Linked DNA regions of Homo sapiens. The protein of the gene in region 2 interacts with the protein of the main gene of each other region in a pairwise test. Each region holds a gene or a part of one and is shown on either strand. Other genes may lie near its edges.

The links.
Region 1: the proteins of GRAMD2B (region 2) and CD207 interact in binary tests that used the Homo sapiens proteins (3 or more experiments, as listed by UniProt).

What each region holds. Positions count from the first base shown.
Region 1 is NC_000002.12:70,832,770-70,840,780, forward strand, and holds the start of CD207 (C-type lectin domain family 4 member K), read right to left. Parts: upstream 3,048-8,011; 5' UTR 3,008-3,047; coding exon 2,935-3,007; intron 2,839-2,934; coding exon 2,722-2,838; intron 1,252-2,721; coding exon 877-1,251; intron 283-876; coding exon 131-282; intron 1-130. UniProt on the Homo sapiens protein: Calcium-dependent lectin displaying mannose-binding specificity. Induces the formation of Birbeck granules (BGs); is a potent regulator of membrane superimposition and zippering.
Region 2 is NC_000005.10:126,482,280-126,489,552, reverse strand, and holds part of GRAMD2B (GRAM domain-containing protein 2B), read right to left. Parts: intron 6,091-7,273; coding exon 5,979-6,090; intron 5,155-5,978; coding exon of another isoform or gene 5,152-5,154; coding exon 5,029-5,151; intron 3,868-5,028; coding exon 3,780-3,867; intron 2,681-3,779; coding exon 2,576-2,680; intron 755-2,575; coding exon 661-754; intron 1-660.

The DNA.
Region 1 (8,011 bases), on a different chromosome or scaffold from region 2:
TGAGAACCAATCCTTCTTCATTAGGTCATCAATATTTGGGGATTTTTGTTCACGCAGTATAATCTTGCCCATCCTCCCTGGCCCAGTGCTCATACGCCCCCTTCACAGAGCCCATAGGCACAGCACTCACCTGCTCACTCTCTGAGGTCACCGAGGTCAGGTGTGAATTCCTGGACACACAGAACTGCTCGGCACTATACCAGGTCTTTGGAATGAGAGAAAAGTAATAGAAGTTCCCCTTGAAGTACTTCCAGCCTTGAGAAACCACCTGTAGAATATCATCTAGAGAACAAGAGGTAAAAGTGAACGCTGGTATTCTTGATTTCTTGGGATGCTGGCTTGGTGGGGGCACTTGAATGAGGTCTCAGAGACAGCAGCAAATGGAGCTGTGCGCTGGTGTCCTTGGGTCCTTGTATAGGAGATTAGGGACACTCTTTCAAATCCTGAAAGTCAGACAGAGACTAATAGAGTCTCTGGGACTGGAGAGGTTATAATGCAAGAGGTTGGACAAAGAGTGTCTTCCCCATGATGAGGAAGCAACCCTCCATCGGCCATGACAAGTGGCTGAGCCCCTGGACTCTAGAAAGGAACTTGATGGGAAATGACTAGGTGTGGGCCAGGGTGGACATCCCCTAATGCTTTTACATTCTGCACTTTTGTGTGGGAGCTCTAGCTGGACCCTGGTCTCTTTTCTCCTAACAGCCCCTAAGTCCTCCCCAACCTCAAGCCCTCTCTCCTTAACTTCCTAGCCCATGGCTGCCCCTCTTTTGCCCCCACTCTCCTCCCCAACCCACCAGCCCAATGGCCTCAGGTCTGGGACAGGTAAGATCCCATGGGCCACTGGTCAGCTTCAATGTAATTTTCTGAGTCACTTACTTTGTCGTTTGAGCAACTTGCTCATATTCTCCAAGCTGCCCTGGAGTGCCCGGATCTTTGTATTTAAAGCACTGGCTTTCTCCAAATCACTTTTTAACTCTGGGATTTGGGCATTTAAGGTACTGACTTCTTCCCAACTTCTTGTTAAGATCTGGATCTGTGCGTTGGCCTTCTCCACACTGGTTTTTAACTTCAGGAACTGAGAACGCACATAACCCAGGCTCTCATTCACCATCTGGATCTGAACGCCAGCTGCCTCCATGCCGTCACTATTCTTTTTAATTTCAGAATCCAGGGTGCTGATGTTGTCCACACGACCTTTCAGCAACTGGACATTGGTCTTTACATCTGATATGGTGCCCATAAACCGGGGATCTGGGATTGAGAAAGTCAGGAGGTCAGCTGAGGGGAGTCCCAGGGACAGGAGTGGGGGTGTTGTCAGGTTGATCAAAGGAAGGGAAGGAATAGGCTGAAGCTTCCCAAAGAACCAAGACAGTCCAATGGGCCACCCCAACCCTCCAATCATTCATTAACGTACAACAAACGTGCAATGGGCACCTACCATGTGCCAGGAACACAGGTGGATACAGATAATGGGGAGATTGATAAAACACAGGCTCTCTGTGAAAAGATTTCACAGGCAAGCAGAAGCAGGAGTTAGAAACCATTCCTGAATTTTCTGAGTGTTCAGGGAACATTTGATAAAGGGTGCCCTCCATGAGCCCCACCACTGTCCCCAGAACTTGATTCCCCCTAGACCCCACCCCTTGGTTGCCATCCCTCTGTTTTCAGAAACCCCTGCAGTGGCCATCTGCTAGGACAGCACCACTCCCCCACATCTGTCCATGGGCCCCTCTGTGACCATGGGAAGAACCAGCCACTAATCTGGAAGTGGCTTCTCCAGAGAACATGGAAGAGGAGATTACAAAACTGTTTCTCCCCTTCCCTTGCCCCACCCACTTTCACATTCTGCTCAGGTCCCAGGCCTGGGTACCAGAGAGAGGATCAAAGATAAACCAAGAGGCTCAAAGGCGAGCCCTGAGGAAAATGCGATGTTAGAGGCCAGGGGTCTAGGATGGGGCAAGGGGGACTCTGCTCAGAGCCTACAAGTCTAAGCCCAAATATGTCCCGAGGCCACAGAGGGAGAAAAAAAAACCCAACAGCTTCTTGGGTCCCTTTGCTCTGCTTCCTGGAGCCCTGGCAGGAGGAAGAAGGCTCTGCCAGCAGCAAAGGCCATGAAGCCTGACAGAGCCAGAAAAGGAAGAAAGATAAACCATGCAACATCAAATGAGCAGGAAGCCTCCCTAGATGTGATCTTCACAGGGACAGGAGAATGAAGACAGCACCAACGAGTCCTGGGGAGAGGGGACTGAGTCATGGAGATCTGTTGGCTCGTTGGCCAGGCTCTCCATCTGGTGAGCTGGGGCCAATGATACATGAGGCTCGGTCCTTCACAGGGTCAGGAGACATTGCACTGTCAAGGACTGTCCACAAGGCTCTAGATCCAAGGAGCAGAGCTCAGATTGGTGGGGGGTGGACGGGGAGAAAATAGCACAGGATGTAAAACTAGATCAATGTTTCCTGAGGACAAAAGAATGTATCCTTGAGCACCAATGTGCAAATGCTAATCCCAATAATCTCCCAGAAATTGGGAGGGAAAGAGCATCAGCTCACCGTACTGGGGGCAGCACAGCCTGTTACTGCACATGGAAAGAGGAGGAAGGAGACAAATGAAAAAGCCACAGGCAGGAGAAACCCGGAGAGCAGGGAAGTGGTCTCGATCTGAAGGGAGCCGGCTGGCCACAGAGAGGGGCTAAGCCCAGACGATGAAACATGAGGACTTACAAAGGACGGCCTGCAGCAGGACGGAGGCGACCAGGACCAGCGTCAGGCAGATTAATGCAGCACGGACTGTGGGTGTTTTCCCCGGGACCAGAGATGGACCGGACTTGGGAGGAGGCTCTGTTGGAAGAAGAAGAAAATGTGTGTTGAAGGAGCAGCAAAGGGCAGGTTTGCACACAGAACACGGAGCAGGTTCTCAGCAGCGATGTGGCTTGCCTCGGGGCCAGAGGGAGATGTTCTGTTTGTCCACAGTGAAGTGCGCATCAGGGGCCTCCTTCTCCACAGTCATCCTGAGTGCTCACCCTTATCCTGGGAGCACAGGTGCTTCTGGCTGCCTGTCTCTCCAAGGGCTCTTATCTAGAGGAAACAGGAAGTCAGTCCCACAGCAGGTCACCATATCATCCCAACTTCCCTATTCCTGACTAGATACCTTGTCTGGCTTACTCCCATCCTCAGAAGTCTGAGCTTTCAGGAAGAGGCCATTTGTTGTCTTCTCTGGGGGTCTGTTACATGGATACATTAACCATCTTGTCCCAAACCTATCCCATTTCTCTTGTAAGACTCTCGTCATCCATCCACCCATCCATTCACCCCACAAATACAGGCTGAGTGCCTTCTAGGTACTGATGCTCTACCAGGCATAGGGCCACAGTGATGAATAACTCGCAGTCCTTGCACCAAGCAGCTCATAGTCTGGTAGGAAAGACAGACATGAGCAAATAAATTGCAAGGTGATGAGCACAAGAGACAAATATGCCCAGTTCAAAGAAGCATATGAAATGGAGTAATGGGAAAAAAAAAAATCCAGTAGAAAGATAAGCATATGCCAAAGGATGGAGCATAAGATAGCATGGAGTGCTTGGCAAATTGTAAATAGTTGCAATATTGCTGGAATGTAAAATATACATTCCAACAGGAAGGGGATGCACACGGGGTTGAAGAGGCACCTGGGGTCTGATGATGAAGATCCTTCTGATCATGTCAAGGAGCTGGACCTCTGGCTTGTGGGTGACATGGGGCCAATTAAGGACTTCAGGCAGGAGAGAGACAAGGACAGGGACACTGTAGAAACATCACTCTGATCCTGGTGAGGAGCAGACTGGTGGGGAGAAGCCTGGAAGCAGAGATACCAAATAGGCAACCATTGCAATAGAATATCCTGCTTCCTGTTATTAATGCATCTTGGCTGATACAATATCCCTTTATAATATGCAACTTGGAGATTCAAAGTGTAAACCTAAGACTTGGGTTCTCCTCCCTGCTTCCTGCACCATGTGAGATTTTCAAAAAAAGTAGGGGCGCTCAGCAACCTCAGACTAGGAATCGTTCTGTTTCTCTCTCCTCTCTCTCTGTCCGCACCTCCTCTCTCCTTCTTTGTAGTCCTAAATAGAGAGTTCCATATGTGCAAGAAGCTCAGGGCACAGAAGAGCTGATTTGGGCTCAATGAAGGACTAAATTTTCTCCTGGGCGGCTTCTCATGCTTTGAAGAAGTCTGCCAAATCTGAGAAATTTGGCACATGGCAGACTCTAGACAAATATTTCTTGGAATATAGGAAAGAGGAGAGGAAAGAGGGAGGGAAGGAAAGAAAAAAGAAGGAAATTGGTCCAGATAATTGGAGGATGGGTGAATGGATGAATGGATGGATAGAGGATGCATGGATGGATGTGTGAATGGTAAGTGACTTGGAGACTTGATAGCTGATCATGCCACTCAGACATTTACACAGTCTGGGGCCTGGGATCTGCCTTCTAGAAGCTGCTGCTTTTTTCCACTGTCTCCAGAAGTTCTCATTCATCTTCAATGCAAAAGCATAAGGGGAAGTGTGATTTACTCCTTACCCAGGAATGAACAAAAGCTCTGGCCGCAGGAAAAGAAAGCTGTCCTGGGCCTGCTGAGGCTGAGCCAGTGGAGCTGGATGACAGCCTGTATCAGGGACCAGGATTAGAGGTTAAGTTAACAGGGCCAAGGAAATATCTACCTATGCTTTCAGGGGCTACTGCCACCTTTGGTACTTGGGAGGATAGTGGCTGCACGCTCAGCCCATGCCTATGTGCAGCTCATTGTAGTTACAGGCCCTTGATGCTCTCTCTCCAGCTAACCGGGCCTCAGGCTGGAGTGGCTTCTCGGACTGGATGAGGGAACCCAGAGAGGACCCCACACTGGGAAGCTCTGGGAAGGAAACTGGGTAGCAAAGATGGTGTCTCATTTGTTCTGTCCCATCGCTTCCCTACCCAGCCTGTCTGTAACTTCCAGGCCTGCTGTCTGCTCTAAATTTTAACATTTGATAGTCCCGAATATGAGGGCCTGGCTCCACATCACTGCCTGCCTCTGGGTGTCCATGAAGATTCCTACTCTCTTCAGGTGGCTCGTGTGGTTGCAGAGCCTTGGTTCCATCAGGGCTTAGACAGGATTAGAATGTTCCACTTCTGGACTCTCATGCTTGGGACCCAGCCTAACTCCAGAATCATCTCTGCCCTTCTGCTCCTGGCTCCTGGCCCTTCATCCATAGCCTGTCCTATTTCTGGGCCTGGGGATAGAGAAGAATCCAAATTACTCAAGACCCTGGTAGAAGGGGCCTTGCAGGGGTCCATGTCTCCTCCTGAGGCATTTGCGGGAAAGAAGCCGCCACACAGTGTGCCTGGGAAGTGTCTTGTCCATTTCCGCTCGGTCAGGAAGTTGGGTTTTCTCTGCTGGTTTGTGGTATGAGTTATACTTTATAGAGCCCCCCAGATGCCCTCTCATTGGTCCCAGGAAAGGATGAGGAAGCCTTAGCGGCTGGGCCCATGGCATAGGAAGGGGCTGGAGCAGGGAGCATTTACTCCAAGTGATGGAAATGCAGGCTGAGGTAGGTAGAATAGCTACCGCTAGGCGAAAGGCTGTTCCAGCATGAGGAAGCTGAGCAAAGGCATGGAATCCTGGGCTGTGGGCCTTCTGGGGTTTCAGAGGAGGTGGATGTAAAAGTCCCAAACCATAGGAAGTTTCATTTCCCACTTTGTGGAGAGGGAGGGAGTCAGAAGCCATCTTCCTATTATCATGCTCATCTACAGGTCTTTCCTGAGCACCTCTCCTGTGCAAACCTCTGGATGCTCTATCTGGCACCTGGCCTGGCAGGAGAAAAGACAGAGAAGCAGGCAGGTGCCTTGGCCACACTTTCCAGTCAGGAAGGTGGGCAGTTCTCCCGGGCACTCAGACAATGCCCTGCTCTTCCAAACAGAAGAGGAACTCTGGCCAGACCTAGTGACCAAAAAAATCACCGCTGTGATGAGAACGGGAAGTCTGTGCTCATTTTTTTAGTTTCTCCTCTTCCTGTGTTCCTGGGGTTCTAATATTTTCTCTGGATAAGGATGGAGGAAGAAAACAGCTTGGTCACTTTTTCCCTTTCTCTGGTTGAGACTATGGTTGGGCCCAGCCTTATGCTTGGAGGAGAACCATGGGTTTAATCAACAAGACTGGAACAGAGACCTGGGTTGTATGAAATGCTCCAGCAGTGCCAAGAGTCATCTCCAGGGAGGAGTCACCCAAGTCCCTCAGTCAAGTCATGGAGGAAAGTAGAGTGAACACCAAATTGCGGAGTGGGGACAGGGAAGGAGAAGAGAGGGAGGAGGGGAGAATGACTCTGAAATGAGAGGAGATTACAGCTGGTCACACCTGGCTTACATAGGGACTCCTGTGATGTGATGCGGGATTTGGCCCACAGCCTCCAAAAAATCAAGGGATTCCATGCCACCCTCCGGACATGCGCCCTGGGCACAGGGGATAGGGCAGAGAAACCAAGGAGCATAGGTGGCACCATTCACTCCTCTAGTCCTGCTGTGCACTAGGTACCAGGACACAGCAAGGAAAAAGACAACCACAGACCCTGCCCTCAGGAATGGTTTTCCTATTGTTGAAAAAATATGACATCCTTAATGCTGGGGAGAAGGGAAGGCTCTCCCGAGACTAAAAATGACTGACGACACTATAGGGGCCTTCCCAGGTCTCCTTGGACCCTGATAACGGGTTCCTCTTTTATGACATTATATGAGGACAGGTCTCTTTGGAACAGTGACAATAAGCCAGACCCTACTGATCAGGGTATTTCACCCAGTGCCATCATAAATAGTGTGATATGTAAATAGGCTGGCAACCTAGCCACATGGAAGAGCTGCTGTGTACCCGGCAGAGGAGGCTGCCCCAGACTACGTCATAAGTCAAAGAACTCATGCCTATAGCCTCAGTGGGAAGGGCAAATCTATGTCAGGAAAGTAATGAAAGGCTTTTGGGAAAAAAAATGTGCATAGTTTCTTTTTAAATCTTTTATTTATTATATAATTAATGATAATTAATTATAGAAAAAAATCCAAGTAAGAAAAAAACCCACCATAGGCTGGGTGCAGTGGCTCATGTCTGTAATCCCAGCACTTTGGGAGGCCAAGGTGGGTGGATCACCTGGGGTCAGGAGGTTGAGACCAGCCTGCCCAACATAAGTGAAACTCGTCTCTACTAAAAATACAAAAATCAGCCAGGCATGGTGGTGGGTGCCTGTAGTCCCAGCTACTCGGGCGGCTGAGGCGGGAGAATCACTTGAACCTGGAAGGTGGAGATTGCAGTGAGCTGAGATTGTGCCACCGCACTCCAGCCTGGGTGATAGAGTGAGACTCTGTTTCAAAACAAAACAAAACACAACAAAACCATCGTAGAGAAAACAAATGTTGTACCCATAGTTCAGTCTTCCTAACCACCCACGTGTATATGTATACACATCTATATCTATAGCCATAGCTGTGTCTAATCATAACTATGCATATATTATATACATATTCACAACACAATTCCTGCTTATTTTCCCTAGCATCCTTCCCCACCTCTCCTGCCTTTCTTTTTTGTTTTTTTGTTTTGTTTTCTTTTGTTTGAGATAGAGTCTCACTCTGTTGCCCAGGCCGGAGTGCAGTGGCGTGATCTCGGCTCACTACAACCTCCGCCTCCAGGGTTCAAGCAATTCTCCTGCCTCACCCTCCTGAGTAGCTGGGACTACAGGCGTCTGCCACCACATCCGGCTAATTTTTTGTATTTTTAGTAGAGACGGGGTTTCACCGTGTTAACCAGGATGGTCTCAATCTCCTGACCTTGTGATCCACCTGCCTTGGCCTCCCAAAGTGCTGGGATTACAGGCGTGAGCCACTGCGCCCAACCTCTCCTGCATTTCTGATACCAAAAATCCCCCTCCATTGGGAAATTTTTTCAGTTTGTGATTCAAATGGGGCTGCTGATCCTAGATACCCGCAGGTGTAGGAGTGACAACTTGCAATGATG
Region 2 (7,273 bases):
TGAATTCTGAGGAACAGTAAAGCAGAGAGCTTCTAAGCACAACTTTGCAGTCAGACAGGCCTGGTTCAGGTTCCAGATCTGCTGACTTTATTTATGTATTTTTCTTCTAATGCTCTCTCAGCAGACTCACGTCTGCTGCCTTTCTAGGTGTGTCACCTTCAGCAAGCTAATTTGAAACTCTTGATTCTTCCCCTATCAGATAGGGAACAATGACGTCTATCTTCCATGGTTCTAATAGGACTTACATGCAATATTTTACCTATGGGAACAGTCAGCCTTGGTGGAGTTGGGGCTGTACTTTCTGGCCAAGCCAGTGGTTGGTCTCCAGTTCACTCCCTACTATGTCCCTACATTAAGCTCCGATGTCAGTAGTCACTTACCACTGGGCCCTGTGCTATTAAGTAATATGTCTAATCAAGGAGGAAGAACAAAAGACCTACAAGACTATGTATTTCAAGGAAAATGAGATTAAGACCTATTTCTTTGTGGAAATAAAAAATATTCTTCCACATTTACTATAAAAAGCCCCTAGCCAGGGTTGATCATGTAGGTTTATTGCGGCACACTAACGGCGTCTGAGTGTGTAATCCCTGACCTGACCTAGGGCAACCAACAGGCACTACTGTGACTGCCCCCATACACAGGAAAGAAATAGGTCACCTTTTCTAATTTCACTATGTTAGCTGTAAGCTCTTGACAGAGAACCTCCACATTGAATTGTACTTGTGACCTCAGGCCAGATGGTGCTGCCTGTCTGTAAGAAAAAAGAGAAAAATTATTATGGGCAGGGATGACAAGGAAAGAAGTGGAATGAACACATTTAAAATTTATTTGAACAGAAAATTGGTTTATAATAGAAGAGAATGAACATTTCATTTGTTAATATTAGACAAAGCCCTGCAGTAATCCGCAACTCCAGGCTAGATGTTTAGGGAACTAATTCTTAAAAGCTCAGCGGGAAATCTCTTAAGCTATTTTTGTTTAAGTGGATATGGTGTGTTTCGGCTTCTAAACAAAAATCAGGCAATTATTTTCAAGCACGTGGTTTCTTAGAACCCTTTTATTAACCCCTAATATCCTTTCTGTCTCCACCAGAGCATAAACTTACAAGAATTATTGTACTTTTGAGCTATTTATACTAGAACTTTACAAGTTTAGGAATGTCCTTATCTAGTTAATCAAATGTCCCTTGAAACACGAGACTTTTGTAGTTTCTTCTTTGAGATTTATCATACAACTATAATTGCCCTTGTCTCATAATCAGGCGTGAGCCACTGTGCCTGGCCTGGAGTCACTTCTTATCTCTATGCCAATATTAACTTTTTGAACAAGATGGGAGAAACTAAGGGCAGAGTATGAATCCATACCAAACTGTTTATTAGGCTTTTGTATTTTATTAGTTCAAGTGTATATTTATGGGTCAAAAATAACCTGTATGCCTGCATACATGTAAGCCACCTAAAGGTAATTCCTATGGAGTAAAGAAAGGTCCTAGAATGGTATAACACAGTATTTCTCAAAGTATAGAGCTCAGACCATTGCCATCAGCACCACCTGGGAACTTGCTGGAAATGCAAATTCTCAGGCCTCATCCCAGACCTACTATATCAGGCACTCTGGAGATGAGCCCTGAAATCTGTTTAAACAATTCTAGATAATTCTGATGCAAATTAAAATTTGAGAGCCACTGGTAGACTGAGGAGCCCATGGTCTTTGTAGTTATATAGACCTGCAGCTGAATCTGCAAACTGTAAGACATTAAACTAATTATTACTCTGAGTCTCAGTTTCTTCATCTGTAAAATGGGAACAGTTCTATTCTAAGGTTATGGTGAAAATATAATGAGGAAAAATCATCTGTATTTGTATGTGTATGTATCCATTCTAATAGAGCCTTCAGCATGTGGTGAATACTCTGTCAGGAAATATCTCTACTTCAAAAACTTGGGCTAAATGTACACTTTCTAACATGGCATAAATTATTTCACTTTTTAGGCAATGTGTCAAAAGCTTCTTGTAAATAGGTTTAAAGAAAAGAGCTCTATGTCTGAAAAGGTTTAATTAGGCCAGGCATGTTAAAAAAAAGACTGATGGAAAATCTTCACAGACACATTCAATTAATTACTAGTCACATTGATCTTGACAGTGGTCAAGAGTTTTGCAAATAAGTGAGTTAATATAAAAAGTTATACATGATAAAATGTGCTGAGTTTCTTGAATTGCTTCTTTCTCTGAGTGTCTTGATTTATTGCCATTTTACTAAGGTAAACTTGTGTAGTTTAATAAATGGGGCAAGGTCACAACTGCATCTTAGCATATTCGAGCAAGATAATGTAAAATTAGGCTTGTTTCTTGCCTTATTACTAGCAACATTACCACAACTCCAAAATAGTACAGGGTTAGGTCATTCATTTCTAGACCCTCCTACCTTTTTACTTTCCACATATACACTTAACAAAATGTCACATACAGAATGTATCTCCAATTAATGTTTACTAAGAAGGATGCTAAGTTCAGGTCAATTATTATATTAAGCAGAATGGCAAGCAGATGACAGCTAGAGGCAATCGTCTTACTCAGTATTATGGGTGTCCACAATGGAGGTTAGTAACCCCAGCTGCTCCTCCAGAGTATTAATTCTGTATCTCATGTAGAAGGTCGAGATGATTAGTGCACAGACACTGGAAACGGATGAAAGAGAAACTTTCGTTAGGTTAACGGCCAGGATCTGATGTTCATAAAACAACTCAGTGCCAATGTGGTACACCCGAGGCAAGGTATTTTCCAAAATAACTTGGTAAAAAGATTTTAAAAACATCCTTTTTAAACAGGCTGATGCTTGTTATAAAACTTACAGCTAGAAGAGACTTAAAATCCTCTAGCCCAAGTCCCTTAATTTGCAAATAATGGCCCTTCTAATAGCACTGGTCAGAGCCAGACCCAAGTTGGAGTACCAAGCCAGTGTTCCTCCTCCCTGCGGTACTACCGTCCTCTGCCAGAAGAGCCTGGGCAGATCTTAGCCATGTTCTCTGGTGACTCCCTCCTTTATCTGGAAACCAGACTGGGCATATTTTCCTTGGTTGGGAGGAACAGCCTAGAACTGGGTCAGGCTATTTTCAGAAGAACAATTGGTTACACGCTAGAAGTTAAAAAAGTCTATGCCTACATTTTTGGTAAAGGGGATGAGGACAACATTTTCAAGTTGTGTTGGCCCCTGTTCAGGGGACATGGGACAGATGGCAAAACAAAATTATAGCTAGATAGAAGGAATAGGTTCTGGTGTTGAATATCACTGTAGAATGACTAAAGTTAACAATGATAGAGTTTCAAATAGCTAAAAGAAGGATATTGAATGTTCTCAACACAAAGAGATGATAAGGGTGATGGATATGCTAATTACCCGGATCTGATCAGTATACATTATATGTATCAAAACATCACTATGTAGTCCATAAATACCTACAATGATTATATGTCAATTAAAAAAATAAGGTAAAAAAAATAACAAGGGTAAAGATGCTTCATAATTCACAGAGCAATTTCCCAACTAATGGTACCCACTCAGAACTTAGTCCTCTGCAGGGTTTGGCACAACCATGAAAATGTGACCTAAGCCTAAGGAAAAAAACCTGAAGTAGGAGACAGAAATTGTCAAAGTAAAGATGTAGGTCACATTTCAGACAATTGAGATTTACAGTAGGTCTTGGCAGTGTGAAGAGATTATTCCTTTAGCGAATGGAATCATTTTCTTAGTCACTCACAGTAAATTCATGTACTTACACAATTGCATAGAATATAAGAATATGGTGAAGCATCGGACATTTCTGAGACTTGACTTTATGTAAGATTCCAACAGTTTCTGACAGACCTGTTGGGAGGAAAACAAAAAACAACTGTTTAAAACCATAACACACTTCTTTTATCCAGCAATATCCCTATGGGGTACTTGAGAGAGGTAATTGTTCCCAGGTAAAAGAAATCAGAGAAAATATCAAGTCTCCCAGTTGTCATTTTAACCAGTGGTTACAATTCCTTCCAACACATTCCATTGATTACATACCTATCCACAGCCTTCTTTGTGTCAAGCATTGTACTGGAATCAATGATGGACAATATAACAATATCCTTGCTCCCTTACCAGTATAGCTAGTTATTAGAATAATTAGTAAATAAGAAATTTGAGTTTTACTGGAAAATTTTTTATTTTTTTGAGATAGTCTCACTCTGTTGCCCAGGTGACAGTGGCGTGATCACAGCTCATTGCAGCCTTGACCTCCTGGGCTCAAGCAATCCTCCTGCCTCAGCCTCCCAAGTAGCTGGAACTACAAACATGTACCACACCCAGCTGATTTTTAACTTTTTTGTAGAGATAGGGTCTCACTATGTTGCCCAGGCTGGTCTTGAACTCCTTGGACTCAAGCAATCCTCCCACCGCAGACTCCCAAAGTGCTGGGGTTACAGTAACAGAAATTTTTGAAAGATAATCTCATGTATTCAGAATCATGAAGTGACCTCCATGAAGGCTATTCACTTTTGTATCCCCCACTGTAAGCACGGAACTGGGTACTGTTTGCTAAAAGAATAAGTGAATTAATATGCAAAGACCTATAATACAAAGGGAGGAAAGGGAATATGAAAAGCAGTCATAAGGTGAAACCCAGTTACAAATAGGCCGGGCATGGTGGCTCAAGCCTATAATCTCAGCATTTTGGGAGGCTGAGGCGGGTGGATCACTAGAGGTCAGGAGTTCGAGACTAGCCTGACCAAAATGGTGAAACCCTGTCTCTACTAAAAATACAAAAATTAGCTAGGCATTGTGGCATGCGTCTGTAATCCCAGCTACTCAGGAGGCTGAGGTACGAGAATCGCTTGAATCCAAGAGGCAGAGGTTGCAGTGAGCCAAGATCATGTTATTGCACTACAGCAGCCTGGGTGATAGAGCAAGATGCTGTCTAAAAAAAAAAAAAAAGTTACAAACAGACATCTCCAATCCTTCTAAACCCACCCCCCTGAGACATCCATTCCTTACCCTGTACAGGGAGACTCTTGGCTTTTCCTTCAGGTACTCTGTTCACATGGGCATCTGCCCGAGTTGGCTTTGCTTCTCCCTTGGAGACATTCAGAACTGTTTGGGATTCTGTCGCATGGAAATCTACTAAGCCAAAACAGAGCTGGGTAAGTGTTCTCTCCAATGTATTTAAAAACAGGATTAATCTCCAAGTAAATCAATCCCTTAACATGCATAATGGTCAAGAATGTGAATGGATGGTCTCACAAGTTAGTTGTGGTGGCTGGGGCTGAAATTGAATGCTTAAGCAAATAAGTAATAAAGTGATATAAGGATAGTCTTTCATTTTCCAACCAACTCACATGGATAATTCAGCTGTAACAATTAAAAATATTATTGAAATAAGAGGGAAGAAAATAGGCCGGTGCGGTGGCTCACGCCTGTAATCCCAGCACTTTGGGAGGCCAAAGTGGGTGGATCACGAGGTCAGGAGTTTGAGACCAGCCTGACCAACATGGTGAAACCCCGTCTCTACTAAAAATAACAAAAATTAGCCGGGCTTGATGGCGCATGCCTGTAATCCCAGCTACTCAGGAGGCTGAGACAGGAGAATTGCTTGAACCCGGGGGGTGGAGGTTGCAGGAGCCGAGATTGTGCCATTGCACTCCAGCCTCAAAAACAAAAACAAAAACAAAATTGTATGTTTTTTTCTCTCAACCACCCCAACGTTAGGTCTATTTAAAAGACCTCTGTTAAATGTGCATAAAAGCAAATGAATTTTTACCACATAGGCAATTCTTTTCCCTCCAACTCTCAAGGCATCCTTTCTCCAGATTCCATTCCTGATTTTTAACTAGGAAGACAATGTGGGTTTTTTTCTTTCTTTTCTTTTCTTTTTTTTTTTAAGGGGGTGGGGTGAGGATGTTTTGAGGGGAATTAAATTTTAGTCAAAATACAACAATTTCCCAAACCTCGAGAGTTCTCAGATTCAGGAGTTTGAGAACCAGAACTGCTATATCCTTCCATGTCTTGCCTTCTTTGTTGAACCACTCCATCCAGATCTGAGAATTCATCATTGAAATCCTGAAAGGAAACAGTGAAATGAAGACAGGCTGATATTCCCTTAGTAAACAGGCAGGCCTTTGTAACTCCCAGCCCTTTCACCTAGGCCTGACCTATAAAACATAGAATAGAAGGAAGGATTACTCCATACGACTGGGATTTTCCCAACAGATGACTGAGTATCTGGTTACTGAAACAGATTTTTCAGGCAGTTAAAATTCTGTCAACAAACACTGGCCAACTCGTTCGAAACAACAAATGTCTAGGAAAACACCCAGAATGCCAATAATTGAGAAGCTTCCAGTGTGAAGCTGAAGGTTTCATTAGCACTTCGTAATGAGAAAACCTGATTACTACAGACATATATAAGAGAAAAAAATAGAAAGCTTTAAATCCAAGTTCAAATATGTAGACAGAGAGAAAGATATTACTAACTTATAATTTTTTTAAAAAAGTATTGGAAACAGAAAAGGAAAAGTGGCTTTAGCCAATTAGACCCTGAAAGTAAAGTTTAAGCTTTTTTTCTCCCCTCAACTAAATCAAAACAGGGTTAGTGATAGTACATTTAAATTTTAGAAAGATGATGTAGGAGTAAGGTAAAAAGCACAGACATTCTACTTTGTATTCTACTGGTTCCCCAAAGTGCTTAAGAACTGAAGAGACAAATGGTGTCATTAAAATGTCCTGGCAAAGGTACAATTAGGCTGAGCTTTTAACAATTTAGTCAGCTGCCAAATGAAGAAGAGACTCATCTTGTAAGCAAATTACCAACCTTTCACCTTGAACTAGCTGTCTTTTGTTCATCTCAACACTCATTTCGATTTCATACAAGGATTTATAGGAGAAGGAAAATTGAAAATTTCTTCAATGTAATGATTTCTTGAATGCCTATCTCATATCAGGCAGTATGCAAAGCTCCTTACATACATGATTGCATTTAATCTTCACAGCCACATCATGAAGCTGGCATTTTAATGGATGAAGAAACTGAGTCAAAGCAGTTAAAGCTTGCCTGATGCTATAACATAGCTGGGTGGAGCCCAGATTTAAAACCAGGTTTCTTGGATTCCAAATCAAGTGTGTTACATTATATTCTGTACTGCTTCCCACCACTGTTTTTCAAGGTAGATTTTTAAGAAATTGAGATAAAATTCAGGTAACATAAAATCCACCATTTAAAAGTATACAATTCAGTGGTGTTTAG